Regions from separate parts of the Homo sapiens genome. Here all the other regions are linked to region 2. The links come from fine-mapping of genetic effects on gene expression. A gene starts in region 2. Each other region holds a variant in brackets. All regions are shown on one strand. Distances are between the middles of the regions. Region 1 overlaps NCOA3 (nuclear receptor coactivator 3). Region 2 holds the start of NCOA3 (nuclear receptor coactivator 3). Region 3 has its middle 23 kb from the start of NCOA3.

What was found. PIP is the estimated chance that this variant, and not a neighbour inherited with it, causes the effect.
Region 1: its variant is the best candidate, but not a certain one, in a credible set for the expression of NCOA3 in stomach (GTEx, PIP 0.63).
Region 3: its variant is the best candidate, but not a certain one, in a credible set for the expression of NCOA3 in monocytes after Pam3CSK4 (Quach 2016, PIP 0.88).

The regions. Positions count from the first base shown.
Region 1 is chr20:47,649,346-47,655,821 of GRCh38, forward strand. It overlaps NCOA3 (nuclear receptor coactivator 3), which reads left to right. Exons shown (of 23, transcript NM_181659.3): 20 at 1,637-1,931; 21 at 3,061-3,235; 22 at 3,586-3,727; 23 at 4,061-6,476. The coding sequence ends at 4,072. Among named protein-coding and RNA genes, the nearest start is that of SULF2, 130 kb to the right of the region's middle. RefSeq lists an enhancer at 1-243. The variant C/T (reference allele first, on the strand shown) is at 2,427.
Region 2 is chr20:47,498,290-47,504,931 of GRCh38, forward strand. It overlaps NCOA3 (nuclear receptor coactivator 3), which reads left to right and starts at 3,598. Exons shown (of 23, transcript NM_181659.3): 1 at 3,598-3,730. RefSeq lists a cis regulatory region at 2,514-2,586 and a silencer at 3,838-3,957.
Region 3 is chr20:47,475,245-47,481,886 of GRCh38, forward strand. It overlaps the pseudogene RPL35AP. Among named protein-coding and RNA genes, the nearest start is that of NCOA3, 23 kb to the right of the region's middle. RefSeq lists enhancers at 4,412-4,965, 4,966-5,518. The variant C/CA (reference allele first, on the strand shown) is at 3,693.

The sequences.
Region 1 (6,476 bases), 150 kb after region 2:
ATTGGTTCCCTTTGTGATCAGTTGCTGTACTGTGAGAACAGCTATCACTTGGCTGTTTAGGAATTTAATAAATCTGTAAATGTTCCTCTGTTCCTGGATTATGAAACAACATGCACACTGGGTAAAATTCTGAAATTATAAAGAAGAAAATAAAGAATACATAATCCTGTTCTCAGTGATAGCCTCTGAGATGACCTGTTTCTTGTAGTAGGAGGGGATATTAAAATTCCCTTCTACTTCCAGCCAGTGGTGGAGACAGTATTGAGGGGTTTTTTTAATGTGCATGAGGCAGATGACCACACAGCAATCCTCTATTGTGATTTGAAATATCGTTTATAATTGTTTTTTAAAAAGCAACTGTGAAATGCTCGATTTTTATTGTCTTATGCCTACTTGGAAGTACTGATATTTACATTTTCTTGATAATAAAACATCTTGTGGAAGCTGAGCTAGAATGTCCTACAGAAAGATGATAAAAGCTTGCTTTTTGGAGATGACCCGTAGCTAGTAGAGCTGAAATCAGCTTCCTTGTTGTACTTCAGTTATGTCACCTTCTGAACCTCCAGATAGCTTCTGCTTGCCCCTTACCTCTTTCTGAAAGTTTAAAGAAAGTTCAAGATTTTCTGAGGTGGACCCCTGCTTATCTGAGTATAACCCCATCTTATTTTTTTTGGCTTCATGTTTCAGCCCTCCACCACCCCAACACACTGAATCCTCATTTTCCTGTAATTGTCTTTCATAGTTCCTGAAAAATTTGTCCTCAGATTCCACCCCTAAATGTTTTCTTACTTTGTGGAATGTTTCTAGTCATGTTAAAGCTTGACAGTGTGTTGTCTTTTGTCTTTTAACCCCAAATAATTTTCAGGTCCCTCTTCTTCAGTTCTCCCTCCCTCCCCTTGCAATAGCCAGAAAGCTTTTTTTTTTTTTTTTTGAGAGTCACTGTTGCCCAGGCTGGAGTACAGTGGCACGATCTCGGCTCACTGCAGCGTCAATTCCCTGGGTTTAAGGGATTTTCCTGCCTCAGCCTCCTGAGTAGCTGGGATTACAGGTGCTCATCACCAAGGCTGGCTAGTTTTGGTATTTTTAGTAGAGACAGGGTTTCACCATTTTGGCCAGGCTGGTCTCGAACTCCTGACCTCAAGTGATCCGCCCACCTTGGCCTCCCAAAGTGCTGGGATTACAGGCGTAAGCCACTGCACCAGGTCAGAAAGCTTTTATGTGAAGAATTGTATGTTTTGGCCGGCACAGTGGCTCACACCTGTAATTTAAGCACTTCGGGAGGCCGAGGTGGGCGGATCACCTGAGGTTAGGAGTTTGAGACCAGCCTGGCTAACATGGTGAAGCACTATCTCTACTAAAAATACAAAAATTAGCCAGAGTGGTGGTGCACGCCTGTAATCCCAGCTACTTGGGAGGCTGAGGCAGAAGACTCACTTGAACCTGGGAGACGAAGGTTGCTGTGAGGCGAGATTGTGCCACTGCGCTCCAGCCTGGGCGACAGAGTGAGACCCTGTTAAAAAAAAGAAGGCCCTGGGTGTTTTCTGTCTTATACCTGGTGTATTGTGGGGGTACTATATGTATGCAACTGGCAGGTTCTTGCTATATATATGTAATTGCACTCTTTCTTGGGTATTAGCAGGGTTTTCTTAATGCTCAAATGGTCGCCCAACGCAGCAGAGAGCTGCTAAGTCATCACTTCCGACAACAGAGGGTGGCTATGATGATGCAGCAGCAGCAGCAGCAGCAACAGCAGCAGCAGCAGCAGCAGCAGCAGCAACAGCAACAGCAACAGCAACAGCAGCAACAGCAGCAAACCCAGGCCTTCAGCCCACCTCCTAATGTGACTGCTTCCCCCAGCATGGATGGGCTTTTGGCAGGACCCACAATGCCACAAGCTCCTCCGCAACAGTTTCCATATCAACCAAATTATGGTAAATCTGACAATGAAAATGTGCCTTCCCCAAGTTAACATTACTAAGGACATAAGCTTCATTACATTTATTGCACATGAAAGACAAAAACACGATTCACTCCCTCTTTACTTCACAAGGAAAACCAAATTAATTTAAATGATTGGAAAACAAAAATGCTGCAGCACACAGGTAATTGAGACAGGTGTATCCTGTCATAGTTGAATATTTTTTTCAGTCCCACTCATTAAGAGTCCCCAAACTCTGGAAGAAACACTGCAAAGTTGTCCCCTTGCCCCTTCTTGTATGTTCCAGTATAGTAGAACTCTCTAATCTCTGAATGCTTGGTCAAGTCAGTGAGAGGAATGCACTTTGTGGGCTTTTAAGTTGATTTTCTTGGTGACTTGGATTTATTATTTTTTTTTTGAGATGGGGGTCTTGCTCTGTCACCCAGGTTGGAGTGCAGTGGTGCGATCTTGGCTCACTGCAACCTCTGCCTCCCGGGTTCAAGTGATT[C/T]TCCTGCCTCAGCCCTGAGTAGCTGGGACTACAGGTGCATTCCACCACCCCCGGCTGTTTTTTTTTTTAAATTTTTAATAGAGACGGGGTTTCACTGTGTTAGCCAGGATGGTCTCGATCTCCTGACCTCGTGATCTGCCTGCATCGGCCTCCCAAAGTGCTGGGATTACAGGCGTGAGTCACCGTGCCCGGCCCTGGATTTATTATTACAGTGATGCAGATACCTCTTCATTTCAGCCTTTGAGAGGTTCCAGGAACATGGTGGGAATAAAGGTGTCTATTGGGGAGCCCTGTCATCTGAGGATTATAACTCCCCTGCCCTTTAAAGAAGGATGGAGTGATGTGAGTTGAGTGATACGGAGTCCCTTTTCTACAGGAAACCCATTAAAGCAACTGATCTTTCAGTGATCCAGATGGTGCTCCTTTCTGTAGTAAGCCTGTTACTCTAGTCGTCATCTTGGTGAGAATCTAGAATACCTGGGGGGGCAGCATCTTATAGCACTCTGTATCTTACACTTATCACTTCCCTCCACCCCCACCTCCTTTAAAAAAAAAACAAAATTACTACAGAAATCTGATATTCTAAGGAGAAGGCATTTGGGCATTTTTATTTCTTCTGTTTTATTTTTGTAAGGAATGGGACAACAACCAGATCCAGCCTTTGGTCGAGTGTCTAGTCCTCCCAATGCAATGATGTCGTCAAGAATGGGTCCCTCCCAGAATCCCATGATGCAACACCCGCAGGCTGCATCCATCTATCAGTCCTCAGAAATGAAGGGCTGGCCATCAGGAAATTTGGCCAGGAACAGGTAAAGAACAGTGACTTATAAAGTTAGTCACATCCTAGTCCCAGAAGTCCAAGAACTTAATGTATTTTTCAGTCAAGCCTTTTTGGATGGAGAGGTTGAAAGGACTGGGTTCATATTAGAAGGTGTGATTTGGCTTGTCCATTTTGAGAGTCCTTCAAGCACGCACATATCTATTAGGGTGTCTAGTACAGAAAGCTGTGAAAAATGGATCACAGGCTGTCAGGGAGTTTTCTCTAACATTCCCAGCTTAAGTATAGCAATGTTTGACACAATTGTAGTAATTTCTGTGGGCATGCCCTTTGTCGCTAAAGTGACTTCCAGAGGTAATATTACCATTTGTTTACTTACAGCTCCTTTTCCCAGCAGCAGTTTGCCCACCAGGGGAATCCTGCAGTGTATAGTATGGTGCACATGAATGGCAGCAGTGGTCACATGGGACAGATGAACATGAACCCCATGCCCATGTCTGGCATGCCTATGGGTCCTGATCAGGTATGGGATCGATTCCTTACCTTTTTCAAAAAGTTTTTCTTGTTCTCTGGATAGAACTAAAGCCTAGGCTATAATCAGAATGTCCTAGGTATATTTTAACTTGAATGTATAACTTAAAATATAGTAATTGAAAAAACTTGGTTTGAAGGCATTGGGCCATTAGATACTTTTGGTAAGCCAGAGCTGCATTGTAAGATGGGATCTCAGGAACCTGAATCACTCAGCCAGAGCTGCACTGTAAGCCATGAATGTGGACATGGGTATTTTTTTGTTGTGCAAAGCATGTGTTTTACTCATTTTTTTTTTTTTTTTTTTTTTCCTGGTTGCTGACAGAAATACTGCTGACATCTCTGCACCAGGACCTCTTAAGGAAACCACTGTACAAATGACACTGCACTAGGATTATTGGGAAGGAATCATTGTTCCAGGCATCCATCTTGGAAGAAAGGACCAGCTTTGAGCTCCATCAAGGGTATTTTAAGTGATGTCATTTGAGCAGGACTGGATTTTAAGCCGAAGGGCAATATCTACGTGTTTTTCCCCCCTCCTTCTGCTGTGTATCATGGTGTTCAAAACAGAAATGTTTTTTGGCATTCCACCTCCTAGGGATATAATTCTGGAGACATGGAGTGTTACTGATCATAAAACTTTTGTGTCACTTTTTTCTGCCTTGCTAGCCAAAATCTCTTAAATACACGTAGGTGGGCCAGAGAACATTGGAAGAATCAAGAGAGATTAGAATATCTGGTTTCTCTAGTTGCAGTATTGGACAAAGAGCATAGTCCCAGCCTTCAGGTGTAGTAGTTCTGTGTTGACCCTTTGTCCAGTGGAATTGGTGATTCTGAATTGTCCTTTACTAATGGTGTTGAGTTGCTCTGTCCCTATTATTTGCCCTAGGCTTTCTCCTAATGAAGGTTTTCATTTGCCATTCATGTCCTGTAATACTTCACCTCCAGGAACTGTCATGGATGTCCAAATGGCTTTGCAGAAAGGAAATGAGATGACAGTATTTAATCGCAGCAGTAGCAAACTTTTCACATGCTAATGTGCAGCTGAGTGCACTTTATTTAAAAAGAATGGATAAATGCAATATTCTTGAGGTCTTGAGGGAATAGTGAAACACATTCCTGGTTTTTGCCTACACTTACGTGTTAGACAAGAACTATGATTTTTTTTTTTAAAGTACTGGTGTCACCCTTTGCCTATATGGTAGAGCAATAATGCTTTTTAAAAATAAACTTCTGAAAACCCAAGGCCAGGTACTGCATTCTGAATCAGAATCTCGCAGTGTTTCTGTGAATAGATTTTTTTGTAAATATGACCTTTAAGATATTGTATTATGTAAAATATGTATATACCTTTTTTTGTAGGTCACAACAACTCATTTTTACAGAGTTTGTGAAGCTAAATATTTAACATTGTTGATTTCAGTAAGCTGTGTGGTGAGGCTACCAGTGGAAGAGACATCCCTTGACTTTTGTGGCCTGGGGGAGGGGTAGTGCTCCACAGCTTTTCCTTCCCCACCCCCCAGCCTTAGATGCCTCGCTCTTTTCAATCTCTTAATCTAAATGCTTTTTAAAGAGATTATTTGTTTAGATGTAGGCATTTTAATTTTTTAAAAATTCCTCTACCAGAACTAAGCACTTTGTTAATTTGGGGGGAAAGAATAGATATGGGGAAATAAACTTAAAAAAAAATCAGGAATTTAAAAAAACGAGCAATTTGAAGAGAATCTTTTGGATTTTAAGCAGTCCGAAATAATAGCAATTCATGGGCTGTGTGTGTGTGTGTATGTGTGTGTGTGTGTGTGTATGTTTAATTATGTTACCTTTTCATCCCCTTTAGGAGCGTTTTCAGATTTTGGTTGCTAAGACCTGAATCCCATATTGAGATCTCGAGTAGAATCCTTGGTGTGGTTTCTGGTGTCTGCTCAGCTGTCCCCTCATTCTACTAATGTGATGCTTTCATTATGTCCCTGTGGATTAGAATAGTGTCAGTTATTTCTTAAGTAACTCAGTACCCAGAACAGCCAGTTTTACTGTGATTCAGAGCCACAGTCTAACTGAGCACCTTTTAAACCCCTCCCTCTTCTGCCCCCTACCACTTTTCTGCTGTTGCCTCTCTTTGACACCTGTTTTAGTCAGTTGGGAGGAAGGGAAAAATCAAGTTTAATTCCCTTTATCTGGGTTAATTCATTTGGTTCAAATAGTTGACGGAATTGGGTTTCTGAATGTCTGTGAATTTCAGAGGTCTCTGCTAGCCTTGGTATCATTTTCTAGCAATAACTGAGAGCCAGTTAATTTTAAGAATTTCACACATTTAGCCAATCTTTCTAGATGTCTCTGAAGGTAAGATCATTTAATATCTTTGATATGCTTACGAGTAAGTGAATCCTGATTATTTCCAGACCCACCACCAGAGTGGATCTTATTTTCAAAGCAGTATAGACAATTATGAGTTTGCCCTCTTTCCCCTACCAAGTTCAAAATATATCTAAGAAAGATTGTAAATCCGAAAACTTCCATTGTAGTGGCCTGTGCTTTTCAGATAGTATACTCTCCTGTTTGGAGACAGAGGAAGAACCAGGTCAGTCTGTCTCTTTTTCAGCTCAATTGTATCTGACCCTTCTTTAAGTTATGTGTGTGGGGAGAAATAGAATGGTGCTCTTATCTTTCTTGACTTTAAAAAAATTATTAAAAACAAAAAAAAAATAAATTTTTTTGCAATCCTTTCCTCAGACCTGGCTCCA
Region 2 (6,642 bases):
GGGAGTCGGAGGTTGTGGTGAGCCGAGATCACGCCATTGCACTCCAGTCTGGGCAACAAGAGTGAAACTCCATCTAAAAAAAAAAAATTTCTAAAAAAATTCAGATGGTGTATGGTATGAATCATTGTGAAGACAAAGCAGGGTGATATGACTGTGTTTGTGCCTGTGTGTGTGTTTAGTGCTTTAGAAGTTCTATCCGAGAAGGAGACATTGCAGCAGAGACTTGAATGGCAATAGAGAGCAAGCCAGGAGGAAAGAAAATTCTAGGCAAAAGGAACAACAGGTGCACAGGTCCTGAGGCAGGAATATGCTTGGTGTGTTCAGGAATGTTAGTGTGACATGGGGTGAGATATAGGGAGAGATATATCACCTGAGATCAGGGAGGGGAGCAGAGACCAAATCAATTAGGGTCAGAGTAGTTTGTTTTCTTAAATGGAGTCAGGGTCTCCCTCTGTCACCCAGGTTGGAGTGCACTGGCACAATTACGGCTCACTGCAGCCTCGAACTTCCGGGCTCAAGCAATCCTCTCACCTCAGCTTTCTGAGTAGCTAGGACTAGAAGCGTGGGCCACCACACCCAACTAGGGTCTGAGTTTTATCCCAAATGCAATGGGATGCCATTCGAAGCTGTTTAGGTTGGAAGTTTTTTGTTTTGTTTTGTTTTGTTTTGTTTTTGAGATGGAGTTACGCTCTTGTTGCCCTGGCTGGAGTGCAGTGGCATGATCTTGGCTTACTGCAACCTCTGCCTCCTGGGTTCAAGAGATTCTCCTGCTTCAGCCTCCCAAGTTGCTAGGACTACAGGTGTGTGCCACCATGCCCAGCTAATTTTGTATTTTTAGTAGAGACAGGGTTTCACTATATTGGTCAGGCTGGCCTCAAAACCCTGACCTCAAGTGATCTGCCTGCTTTGCCCTCCCAAAGTGCTGGAATTACAGGCGTGAGCCACCGTACCCGGCCTAGGTTGGAAGTAACATGATTTAATACATGATTTTTCAAGGATCCCTCTGGCTACTGTATTGGGAGTGCCCTGTAGAGGATGAAAGGGAGAGAAGCAAGGAGAGTAGCTAGGAGACAGGTGCAGTTGCTGAGGTGAAAGGCCATACACGTGTGAGCATTTCATCTCTGGGTTCTCAGCATCTAACGCAGTATTTTATTTTATTATTTTTATTTTATATATATATATATTTGAAATGGAGTCTCACTCTGTCGCCCAGGCTGGAGTGCAGTGGTGCAAGCATGGCTCACTGCAGCCTTGACCTCCCCTACTCAGGCAATCCTCCCACCTCAGCCTCCTGAGTACTTGGGAATACAAGCAGGCGCCACCACACCAAGCTAATTTTAAAATTTTTTGTAGAGACTGGGTATCTGCTTTGTTGCCAAGGCTGGTCTTGAACTCCTGGGCTCAAGCAATCTCTCGGCCTTCCAAAGTGTTGGGATTACAGGCCTGAGCCACTGTGCCCTGGTGGAAATATATATATATATATTTTTTTGAGACAGAGTTTCGCTCTTGTGGCCCAGGCTGGAGTGCAGTGGCGCGATCTCGGCTCACTGCAACCTCTGCCTCCCGGGTTCAAGTGATTCTCCTGCCTCAGCCTCCCGAGTAGCCAGGATTATAGGCGCCTGCCACCATGCCCAGCTAATCTTTTGTATTTTTAGTAGAGACGGGGTTTCGCCATGTTGGGCAGGCTGGTCTGGAACTTCTGACCTCAGGTGATCTGCCCACCTTGGCCTCCCAAAGTGTTGGGATTACAGGTGTGAGCCACCGTGCCCGGCCCAGAAATGAGATATTTAATTTTTTAATTTTTACTTTTTTTTTTTTTGAGACGGAGTTTCACTCTTGTTGCCCAGGTTGGAGTGCAATGGTGCCATCTCGGCTCACCGCAACCTCTGCCCCCAGGTTCAAGTGATTCTCCTGCCTCAGCCTCCTGAGTAGCTCGGATTACAGGCATGTGCTACCATGCCCAGCTAATTATGTATTTTTAGTAGTGACGGGGTTTCTCCATATTGGTCAGGCTGGTCTTGAACTCCCGACCTCAGGTGATCTGCCTGCCTTGGCCTCCCAAAGTGCTGGGATTACATTCGTGAGTCACCGCGCCCAGCCAAAATGAGATATTTTAAATAACATAAGTAAACAGAAATATATCATGATTTTAATGATAATTCATGCTCTGAAAATAAATGAAGAAAGGAATAGGAGTAGGGAAAGCTGGGATCAGAGTGGGCAGGAAGTTAAAATAGAGCAGTTAGGGAAAGCCTCACTGAATAAGTGACATTTGGACAATGACCATGGGGAGATTAGGGAATGGGTTATTTGAATTTTCTGGGAAAATACTGTTCTAGGCAGAGGAAATAGCAAGTGCACGATCTTTAAGGCCAGAGTGTGCTAAGCACGTTGGAGAGGCCGAGTCCATTGTAGCTGAGTTACAGAAGTGAGTGGAAGAGAAGAAGGTGATGAGTTTAGAGAGGGAAGGGCAGGGCAAGAGACGGGCTGTATGGGGCTTTGCAGGTTACTGCAAGAATTTTGCAGGAGGGACAGAGACTGACTTGGTTCTTACCAGGATTCCTCTGGCTGCTGTGTTGAGTATAGACTCTAAGAGGAAAGAGTGGAAGCAGGCAGAACACTGAGGAGGCTGTTGCAGTGGTCCAGGTGGGAAATGATGGTGCTGACCGTGGAGGTGGTAAGTGGTCAGATTATTCTATTTTATTTACACTCAACACATCTAATACTGACTCAATATTATCTAACATACAGTCCACATTGAAATTGCCCCCCAAATTCTTTTTACATAAAAAAATCATCCTGAATCCAATCAAGTCTCACCTATTGCTTTTGGTTTTCACCTCTTTCATGCTGTCATATTTTAAAAGACTCCAGGCTAGATGTTGTGTAGAATGTCCCACATTCTGAATTCGTTTATTTTTTCAAGTAAGCTTTTTGTGTGTATGTGGCAAGAATACGACAGAGGTAGCAATATGCTTTCCCCACTGCATCATATTAGGAGACACATAACAACAGTCCTGACCCATTATTGGTGGTGCTAAGTTCGATCACTTGGTAAGGGGGTGCCTGCCAGATCTTTCCATTGTAAAGCAAGCTGTTCTTTATTGTAAGTCATAAATACGCTGTGGGATGATACTTCGGGACTAAATATACCCTGAATATACTGCTGCCCAACAACATTTCACCCAGTGACTTTAGCAGCTAAGGAACAGCCTCGTGGCTTCCGACCTTGTGCCTCAGTTCGCTCATCTGAAAAATGAGGATGATCATGGTCCCTACCGGATGCTTGTTTTGAGGATCCGTGCTTGGCATACCAGAAACGCTCCACAAATGTTAGGTATTACTGGACGAAGGCAAATATGAAAAAAATTAAGGGCAGGGCTAGGACTGCATTCCGGTTCTCCGGATCCCGAGGGAGCTCCCAGTCGATGCTGGGCGAAAGCGGCCGCACGAGCCCACGTCGCCACGCCCTCCGCCGCGGAAGCCAGGGTGGGGGTCGCTGGAACCCTAGGCCGGCCGCGCAAGGCCCCCTGGGACCGGTAGTGCTGGGCGTGGCCTCGGGACTACATATCCCAGTGGCCCCCGTGCGGCGACTTTAGCTGCTGCTGTCTCAGCCGCTCCACAGCGACGGCAGCGGCTGCGGCTTAGTCGGTGGCGGCCGGCGGCGGCTGCGGGCTGAGCGGCGAGTTTCCGATTTAAAGCTGAGCTGCGAGGAAAATGGCGGCGGGAGGTGAGTGGAGATAAAGGAGGAGGCGGTGGCGGGCGAGGGGGTGGAGTGCGAGGCGGAGGGAAGAGGGGCGAGTTCCCCAGGCTGCGAGAGCCAGCGGCTTCAGATCTGCCAAGGCACTGAGGGGCGCGCCGGCCGGGGGACGCGCTGAGGTAGTTTCGGGGTGTCGGGGCCGCGCCGCTTCCCCTCAGCCCGGGGGGCGGCCCGCGGCGGTAGGAGCTGAGACGAAGCTGGGTGGCAGTCCGCTTGGGGATCCGAGGGGGTCCCCGCGCGGAGGGGTCACCCGAGGAGTTTGCGGGGGGACTGCAGGGGCCCACTTTCCCCTTCTGTCCCTAAAGTTTTTTCTTCCTCTTGCCTCCCCCAGCCCTTTTGAAAGCTCCCCGCGTCGTCCTCCTGCTGCCCCGGCTCCTTAGCAGCTTCTGGGACGCACGGGAGGGAAAAGCCGCGGGGACCCCCCCCACCCCAGCCTCCCAGCCGGGTGAGATTTGGTTGCTGTGTTTCCTCCTCACTTGGGCATTTAAAAAATATTTTAACACGAATTGTCCGCGGAATTTTCATGTTGGGCTCGGGTAGCTTCTTAGTTTTCTCGGTAAAAAGGCGTTTTACTACCTCTGGTGTGAAGGCTGGGAAATGGCAAGTGGGAAGTTGGTTGATAAAATTAGGAGTTTGGCTGTCTTTATTACTACTTTTTTTTTTTTTTTGCTCTCCCCATCTCTCATTTTATGAACATCGACCCAGTTCGTCATGGTTTAAATAAACTGCTTGTCTTGTACCTGCCTTAACAAAACTAGCCATGGGTCGTTGGGAGACTTAGTTGCTTCCTAGGCAGTTTGAGGGCATCTAGGGTGGAAAAGTTAACCGAGAGAGCGAGCATCTACCTCACTGGCAGGATCTGGGATTCCCAAATGGAATGACACGGAAGCTATGAGATTCTCTCGAAGTCGAAACTTTTTTCCCCCTCCCGAATGCGAAGACTTCCTTTTTGCAATATTTGAGCAGGGCTTCAAAACCAACCTGTTTTTGTTATTAAGCCTGTACGGTAAAGAAACAGGAAGGAGAGTACCAGCTGTCTTGCTGCAGTGGTTTTAAATGGAGTTGAATGAGATGCGTGAGAGTGGTAGTAGTATTGAGTAAGATTGCTGCATCTCTTTGATTTAAATGCCTGGCCTCGGATCCACCTAACTGATCCCTGGCTGCAAAAAAGCTTCAGTATTTGTTGCAGCAGGTTGTTGAGAAGGTGATTGGAGGAATAAAAATCTTAGGTCTTCAGCGAATGCTGCACAAACGAAAATGTTAATGGAAACCTGTAAGTTTGTGAATTGTTTGTTCTTGAAAATATTTTAAATGTATGCTCATTTAGAATATGGTTCTACCGAATGATATCCAATTGGAAAGGTACAAACACATTGAAAAGTGAATCTCTCTTTCACGCCAAACCCTACAGTTTCCCCTTCTCAGAGGCAAAGACTGTTACTGGTTTTTAGAATATCCTTGGTCTTTGGAATAATTATTTTAAGATTTTCATTTGAAACCACTTCTGTTGGATACCAAAAGCAGGGAAATAAAATGAACAGAAGAAACAGAAAATGTGGGAATACTGTTTTTGCTCTCTTAAAAAAAATGTTGATAGCTATTGGAAAAAGCTCTTCAGAACTTACTGCTTATGTCACCTTATCTATTAATACCGTTAAATAACAATCTGTGGGGCTTTAGGATAAAGAACTCTGCCAGGGTTCATTGTTTGTATGTACAATGAATCCTCTGCTTGTAACATGTAAAATGATATTGAACACTATAGCTCCTGTCACTAGAGGTTGCTTCAGGTTCTGCATTTCAATGAGCAGAAATCTAAATTGCCTGTGATCCTAAATTATAGGGGCATTTTATGTATAGATGGAAATGACTTAATTGTCCAATCAGCATTTGAAATAAGAGGCATATACCAGCTTTTGGCATATAGAAGATGGGGATTGTGGACTAAGCGGGAGGCTGTAATATTTCTAGAGCAGTTATAGGAAATATTTCTGCCATAAGATATTTAATTACAAAGGCTTTGAAAATGTACAACTTAAGCATCAATAGCGAGATTTATATTTTTATATTTTAGAATGGTTGTTTTAACAGCTTGCCAACACTAACAATTTGCTAAGGAAATTCAGTGATATTAGAGCTAGGTTATTAAAGATTATATTAAATAATTTAACTGTATTTTGAAAATGATTATGCTGTGCATTTCCTTCTCTGTATAAAAATTATTTCTAAAAAGTGCCACGCACCTCCCGAGCAAATAAAATAGAATTCAGTAAGGAGTGAAGTACTGTTGTACGTGAGACCCTTTTTCTAGGCGATATGCAAATAAAAAGTAGTTTAAAAATGGTTGCTTACTAATGTCTTCTTGACTGGTCTTTTGAAATAAGCTTTCTTGCAGGGACATTACATTAAAGATAAAAGCTAAGTGTGTCTTTTTTTTTTTTTTTTTTTTTTTTTAACGAATTCAGTTCTTTCTGCCGGGCTGCAGTGGCTCAGGCCTGTAATCCCAGCACTTTGGGAAGCCAAGGCTGGTGGATCACGAGGTCAGGAGTTTGAGAACAGCCTGGCAAAGATGGTGAAACCCCTTCACTACTAAAAATACAAAAAATTAGCCGGGCGTGGTGGCGAGCACCTGTAGTTCCAGCTACTCAGGAGGTTGAGGCAGAAGAATGGCTTGAACCCGGGAGGCGGAGGTTGCAGTGAGCCGAGATTGCACCACTGCACTCCAGCCTGGGCAACAGAATGAGACTCTGTTTCAAAAAAAAAAAAAATTCTGTCTTGTGCATTAGCAGTATGATTCTGGAATAATTCATTTTAACTTGGAGTACTGTAATTGAAAAGTCTTTAAAAGAAAATTAAAAAATAAATTTTAGTTTGGACAATAG
Region 3 (6,642 bases), 23 kb before region 2:
GATCACTTGAGGTCAGGAGTTCGAGACCAGCCTGGCCATCATGGTGAAACCCCATGTCTATTAAAAATACAAAAATTAGCCAGGCTTGATGGCGCATTTCAGTAATCCCAGCTATTTGAGAGGCTGAAGCAGGAGAATCGCTTGAACCCAGGAGGCAGAGGTTGCAGCGAACTGAGATCACTCCACTGCACCCCAGCCTGGGTGACAGAGTGATACTCTGTCTCAAAAAAAATAAATAAAATTAGCTGGGTGTCATGGCACATGCCTGTAATCCCAGCTACTCACTAGGCTGAGGCAAGAGAATCAGCTGAACTCAGGAGGCAGAGGTTGCAGTGAGCTGAGATCACACCACTGCACTCTAGCCTGGGCAACAGAGTGAGACTCTGTTGGGCAAACGGAGAGAAATCAGTCACCCTAGTCCAACTAGTCCCTGACCCAGACTTGGAAGGAGAGGGTAGATTTCAAAAGACAAAGATATATTCATTCATTTTTTGAGATAAGGTCTCACTCTGTTACCCAGACAAGAGTGCAGTGGTGCAATCATAGCTCACCGCAGCCTTGAACTTCTCAAGGGATACTCTTGCCTCAGTCTCCCAAGTAGTCAGGATTCAGGTGTGCACCACCCCACCCAGCCACAAAACAAAGACCAAAAAAAGCAACATTTCAGCCCTGGGTAGTGGCTCATGCCTGTAATCCAGTGCTTTGGAAGGCCAAGGTGGGTGGGTCGCCTGAGGTCAGGAGTTCAAGACCAGCCTGGCCAACATGGCGAAACCTTGTCTCTACCAAAAAATAGATAAAAATTAGCCAGGTGTGGTGGTACTTGCCTGTAATCCCAGCTACTCGGGAGATTGCGGCAGGAGAATTGCTTGAACCAGAGAGGCAGAGGCTGCAGTGAGCCAAGATTGCGCCGCTGTACTCCAGCCTGAGAGAGAGCATGAGACTCCATCTCAAAAAAAAAAAAAAAAAAAAAAGAAAGTAAAGGAATGAAAGAATGGCTACTTCATAGGCACAGCAGTAGCATGGGCTGCTGATTGGCTATTTTTATGGTTATTTCTTTCTCCAGCCTGGGCGACAGATCAACACTCTGTCTCAAAAAGGAAAAAAAGAAAAAAAAAGTTACCTTGCCACATATTGAAATGGCCCCAGGAGCCTCCTCCTTTCTCCCCCTCCCCTCAACCCATTACGAAAAAAAAAAAAAACGGCCCTACAAAGGCTTCTTTTGTGGGGGAAAATTTGCATTGTAAAGAATTTCTATGAATATAACTAGATTTTTCATCTTCCAGGCTCTCCAAATCCTGGTGAGATTAACTGAGAATCTAGCATCCTGTAAAGGTCTAAATAGAAAACATTAAAAAAAAATTATAGAGATGGGGTCTCACTCTGTTGCCCTGGCTGGTCTTGAAGTCCTGGGCTCAAGTGATCCTCTTGCCTTGGCCTCCCGAAGTGCTAGGACTACAGGCATGAGTTACCATGCCCGCCCAACAAATAGGAAACATTTGTCCTCTATTGTCTCAAAGGGCAGCCACCTATGAGACTTCATCTACTTCATACAAACCTTGGTCTCCATAGCCCCTTATTGTAACCCAGACACTCCTTTCTTTTGATTCTAGATCTCTAGATAGTAACTTAACTTTCAGCCAATTGCCAATCAGAAAATCTTTGAAACCACTTGTTACCTGTAAATACCCTCGCTTACTTTGAGTTGGTCCACCTTTCTGGACTGAACCGATACACCTCACATGTATTCATTGATATCTTATGTCCTCCTAAAATGTATAAAACCAACCTCAAAGGGCGGGTGCGGTGGTTTATGCCTGTAATCCCAGTACTCTGGGAGGCGGAGGTAGACAGATCACCTGAGGTCAGGAGTTTGAGACCAGCCTGGCCAACATGGTGAAACCCTGTCTCTACAAAAAATAAAAAATTAGGCCAGGCGCAGTGGCTCACACCTGTAATACCAGCACTTTGGGAGGCCAAGGTGGGTGGATTGCCTGAGGTCAGGAGTTTGAGACCAGCCTGACCAATATTGTGAAATCCTGTCTCTACTAAAAATACAAAACTTAGCCGGGCATGGTGGCGTGCACGTGTAGTCCCAGCTACTCGGGAGGCTAAGGCAGAAGAATTGCTTGAACCCAGGAGGCAGAGGTTACAATGAGCCGAGATCGCACCACTGCACTCCAGCCTGGATGACAGAGGGACACTCTGTCTCAAAATAAAAAAATAAAATAATAATAAAATTAATTAATTAAAAAATTAGCTGGGTGTGGTAGTGCACACCTGCAGTCTCAGCTACTCCAGAGGCTGAGACGGGAGGATTGCTTGAGCCCGGGAGGTGGAGGTTGCAGTGAGCTGAGATTATGCTACTGCTCTCCAGCCTGGATGACAGAGCAAGACCCTGCCCCCCACCCATCCCCCCAAAAAAAGTCTTCTGCTAGCCATCATCACTCATATTTGGCTCAGAATAAACCTCTTTAAATATTTTGCAGTTCAGCTTTTTCAACACCTCCAATTTGAACTTGTCTGATTGTATCCACAGGTTTAGATTCAGGTTGAATATTTTTGGCAAAAATACTATAAAAGTGATATTGTGTGTGTCCTTCTTGGGGAATGATTTTTATTATACTACGTTTTAATAAATTTACTTTTAGCCGGGCATGGTGGCTCACGCCTGTATCCCAGCACTTTGGGAGGCCGAGGCAGGTGGATCACCTGAGGTCAGTTGTTCCAGACCAGCCTGGGCAACATGGTGAAACCCCATCTCTACTAAAAATACAAAAAATTAGCCAGGTGCGGTGGTCGGTGCCTGTAATACCAGCTACTTGGGAGGCTGAGGCAGGAGAATCGCTTGAACTGGGGAGGCAGAGGTTGCGGTGAGCTGAGATCACGCCATTGCACTGCAGCCTGGGCAGCAAGAGTGAAACTCCATCTCCAAAAAATATATATTTTTTATTTATTTACTTTTCATTTATTTAAGAGGGGTATAACATCACATGGAATCTTTGTCCAGTGGCCTTAGCAGGAAGATTGTTTCAGAATTTGGCATGAACTATGCCCATAATTCCATGGGTCTGAGTTACCTTTCCTCACATCACTCTGGTTTTGTTCAGTTTGCTGCCGGGAGTCACTGTCCTGTTCTTTGCTTTGTATGCATAAGCGCATCTCTTGCCCAAATAGGATTCAGTTTCATCTCAGGCATAAATGCCTTCAATGTTAAGAAGAGCTGTGTACTCCCTTTGGTTCAAGAGACCCTGCTTATAGCCAGCAAAAGTGGCCTTGGGTCCAGGCCCAGTGGTTCATGCTTGTAATCTCAGCACTTTGGGAGGCCTAGGCAGGAGGATCACCCGAGGCCAGTAATTCAAGACCAGGCTGGTCAACATAGTGAGACCGTGTCTCTACAATAAAAAGAAAATAAAGCCAAGTGCAGTGGCTCACGCCTGTAATCCCAGCACTTTGGGAGGCCGAGGCGGGTGTATCACCTGAGGTCAGGAGTTTGAGACCAGCCTGACCAACATAGTGAAACCCCGTCTCTACTAAAAATACAAAATTAGCTGGGTGTGGTGTCACATGTCTGTAATCCCAGCTACTCGGGAGGCTGAGGCAGGAGACTCACTTGAACACAGGAGGCGGAGGTTGCAGTAAGCCGAGATTGTGCCATTGCACTCCAGCCTGGGTGACAGAGTGAAAGTCCGTGT[C/CA]AAAAAAAAAAAAAAAGAAAAAAAAGTAAAAGGAAAAAAGGAAAAATGGCCTTAGACCACAGCCTTCCAGACATATCTGCCTTTTAGAAGTCCTGTCCTGGTTGGGCAGGGTGTCTCATGTCAGTGATCCCAGCACTTTGATAGGCCAAGGCGAGAAGATCCCTTGAGCCTAGGATTTAGAGACCAGCCTGGGTCTCTAAATATAACATAAGGAGATCCCATCTCTACAAAACACTAAAAAAAGTTAGCTAGGTGTGGTGGCATGCACCTGTGTTCTCAGCTACTGAGGAGGCTGAGGTTAGAGGATCACTTGATCCTGGGATGCTCTAGGTTACAGTGAGCTATGATCGCACCACTGCACTCCAGCCCGTGCGATGGAGTGAGACCTTGTTTCAAAAGAAAAAAAAAAAAGGCCCTGTCAAGCAGACAGGCTCCAAGATGGTAGAAAGAGAAAGGCCTTAGGGAATGATTTTTAAATTTACGGCAGCTGAGAGTCTAACTTCTTAGAGGGGGAAAATTGTGAAATACTAAAATGTGAAGGTGAAATCCCTTGCCCAAGGTCATATGTGCCTTTTAGTTGGTGACCCCAGACTCTAATCCTGGTCTCCTTGTCTGTCTGTACCTATGTGTTCTTCTGTCTTCTCTGTTCTTAGAAACAAACTTTTTCCTCCCCCCACCTACAGCATGCCTTCTGTGGTCAGAATTCTGCTTTAAAAAGCCTTTTTCCCTTATTACTTTTGCACACAACTCAGTTCTCTCCAACAAGGCCTGAACTGCCATTGTTTGCTTCAAACTTCCTTGCATCCAATCCTTCCTCTTTTCAAGATAAGGCCTGTTTTTCCCAGGGCTCTGGGGAACCACACCTAGAAGAGGCTGTTCCAGACAAGTCTAGCATTGCTTCCCTTTTTCTGATAAGGTTCCATTGTTGAGAACACTCCCTTTGTTTCTTACCTGTCTCCAAAACATTCTGGAATTTACTTCTATTTTAGTTTGCTGATGTGGCCATTACTGTTAAGTGGTGGTTAATTATCTTTGTATTCTACATTCTTTTTTTTTTTTTTTTTGAGACGAGTCTCACTCTGTTGTCCAGGCTGGAGTGCAGTGGTGCGATCTCGGCTCACTGCAACCTCTGGCTCCTGGGTTCAAGTAATGCTCCTGCCTCAGCCTCCCAAGTAGCTGGGACTACAGACGTGTGCCACCATGCCCAGCTAATGTTTTGTATTTTTAGTAGAGACGGGGTTTCACCATGTTAGCCAGGATGGTCTTGATCTCCTGACCTTGTGATCCACCCGCCTCCCAAAATGCTGGGATTACAGCCGTGACCCGCAGTGCCAGCGAGAATTCGTATTTCTAACCTAACCTAATCTAATCTAATCAAGTGATTCTGGCCCACAGATAACACTTAGAGAATCACTGGGAGCTGGGTGTTGTGATTTGTGTCTGTAATCCCAGCACTTTGGGAGGCCAAGGCAGGAGGATCCCTTGAGGCCAGAAGTTGGAGACCAGCCTGGACAACACAGCAAGACCTCATCTCTACTAAAAATTTAAAAAGTAGCCAGGCATGGTAGCATGCACCTGTAGTCTTAACTACTTGAGAGGCTGAGGCAGGACGATGGCTTGAGCCCAGGAATTTGGCTGCAGTGAGCTATAATCACACCACTGCGCTTCAGCCTGGGCAACAACAGAGGGAGACCCTGTATGTTAAAAGAAAACAAAACAAAAAAATCATTGGCTTAAACTGACATTTATATAATGTCAAACTGATTAGGCTGGGTGCAGTGGCTCACACCTTGAGCTTTGGAAGGCTGAAGCTGGCAGATTGCTTGAGCTCAGGAGTTCAGGACCAGCCTGGGCAACATGGTGAAACCCCATCATAAAAAGAAAGAAAGAAAGAAAGAAAGAAATACAAATTCTCAGCTCTTCTTCCTTCCTTTCCTTCCTTCCCTCCTTTCTTCCTTCCTTCCTCCTTCTTTCCTTTCTTCCTCCTTCCTTTCTTCCTTCCCTCCTTCCTTCTTTCTCTCTTTCCTTCCTTCCCTCCCTCCCCTCCTCTCTCTCTCTTTCTCTTTCTTCCTTCCTTCCTTCCTTCCTTCCTTCCTTCCTTCCTTTCTTTCTTTCTTTTTCTTTCTTTCTTTCTTTCCTTCTTTGCCTTCCTTCCTTCCTTCTTTCCTTCCTTCCTTCCTTCCTTTCTTCTTTTCCTTTCTTTCCTTTATTTCCTTTATTTTTCTATTGACAGGATCTTGCGCTGTCACTCAGGCTGGAGTGCAGTGGTGCAATCTCACTGCAGGTTGCTCACTGCAACCTTCTCCCCCAGGCTCAAGCAATCCTCCCACCTCAGCCTCCCGAGTAGCTGGGACTACAGGTGTGCACCACCATGCTGGCTATTTTTTGGTATTTTTAGTAGAGATGGAGTCTCATTATGTTGCCCAGGCTGGTCTTGAATTTCTGAGCTCAAGCGATCCGCCTGCCTTGTCCTCCAAAAGTGCTAGGATTACAGGTATGAGCCACCATGCCTGGCCAAAACCCCGTCTCTACAAAAAATACAAAAGTAGCCAGGTTTGGTGGTGTGCGCCAGTAGTCCCGGCTACTTAGGAGGCTGAGGTGGGAGGATAGATTGAGCCAGAGAGATCGAGGCTGCAGTGAGCCATTATCCCACCACTGTACTCCAGCCTGGGTGACACAGTGAGACGAGACTGTCTCAAAAAACAAAAACAAACAAACTGATTATATTGAAGTATCATAAAGCAAGTTATAGACATGAAGTCACCCACAAAACCTAAAAATGTCCACTTCCCAGGGGTTCAATTCTCTACTTTCTCTTGCTGTCCACATCTAATCTGTTTTGAAGTTTTTCTTGTCTAGCTTCAACATATACCCTGAACCCCCATCCTTTCTCCTACATCGTCTTAGCCCAAGCTCATATCCCCTCTCGCCTAGAATACCGCAGCCACTT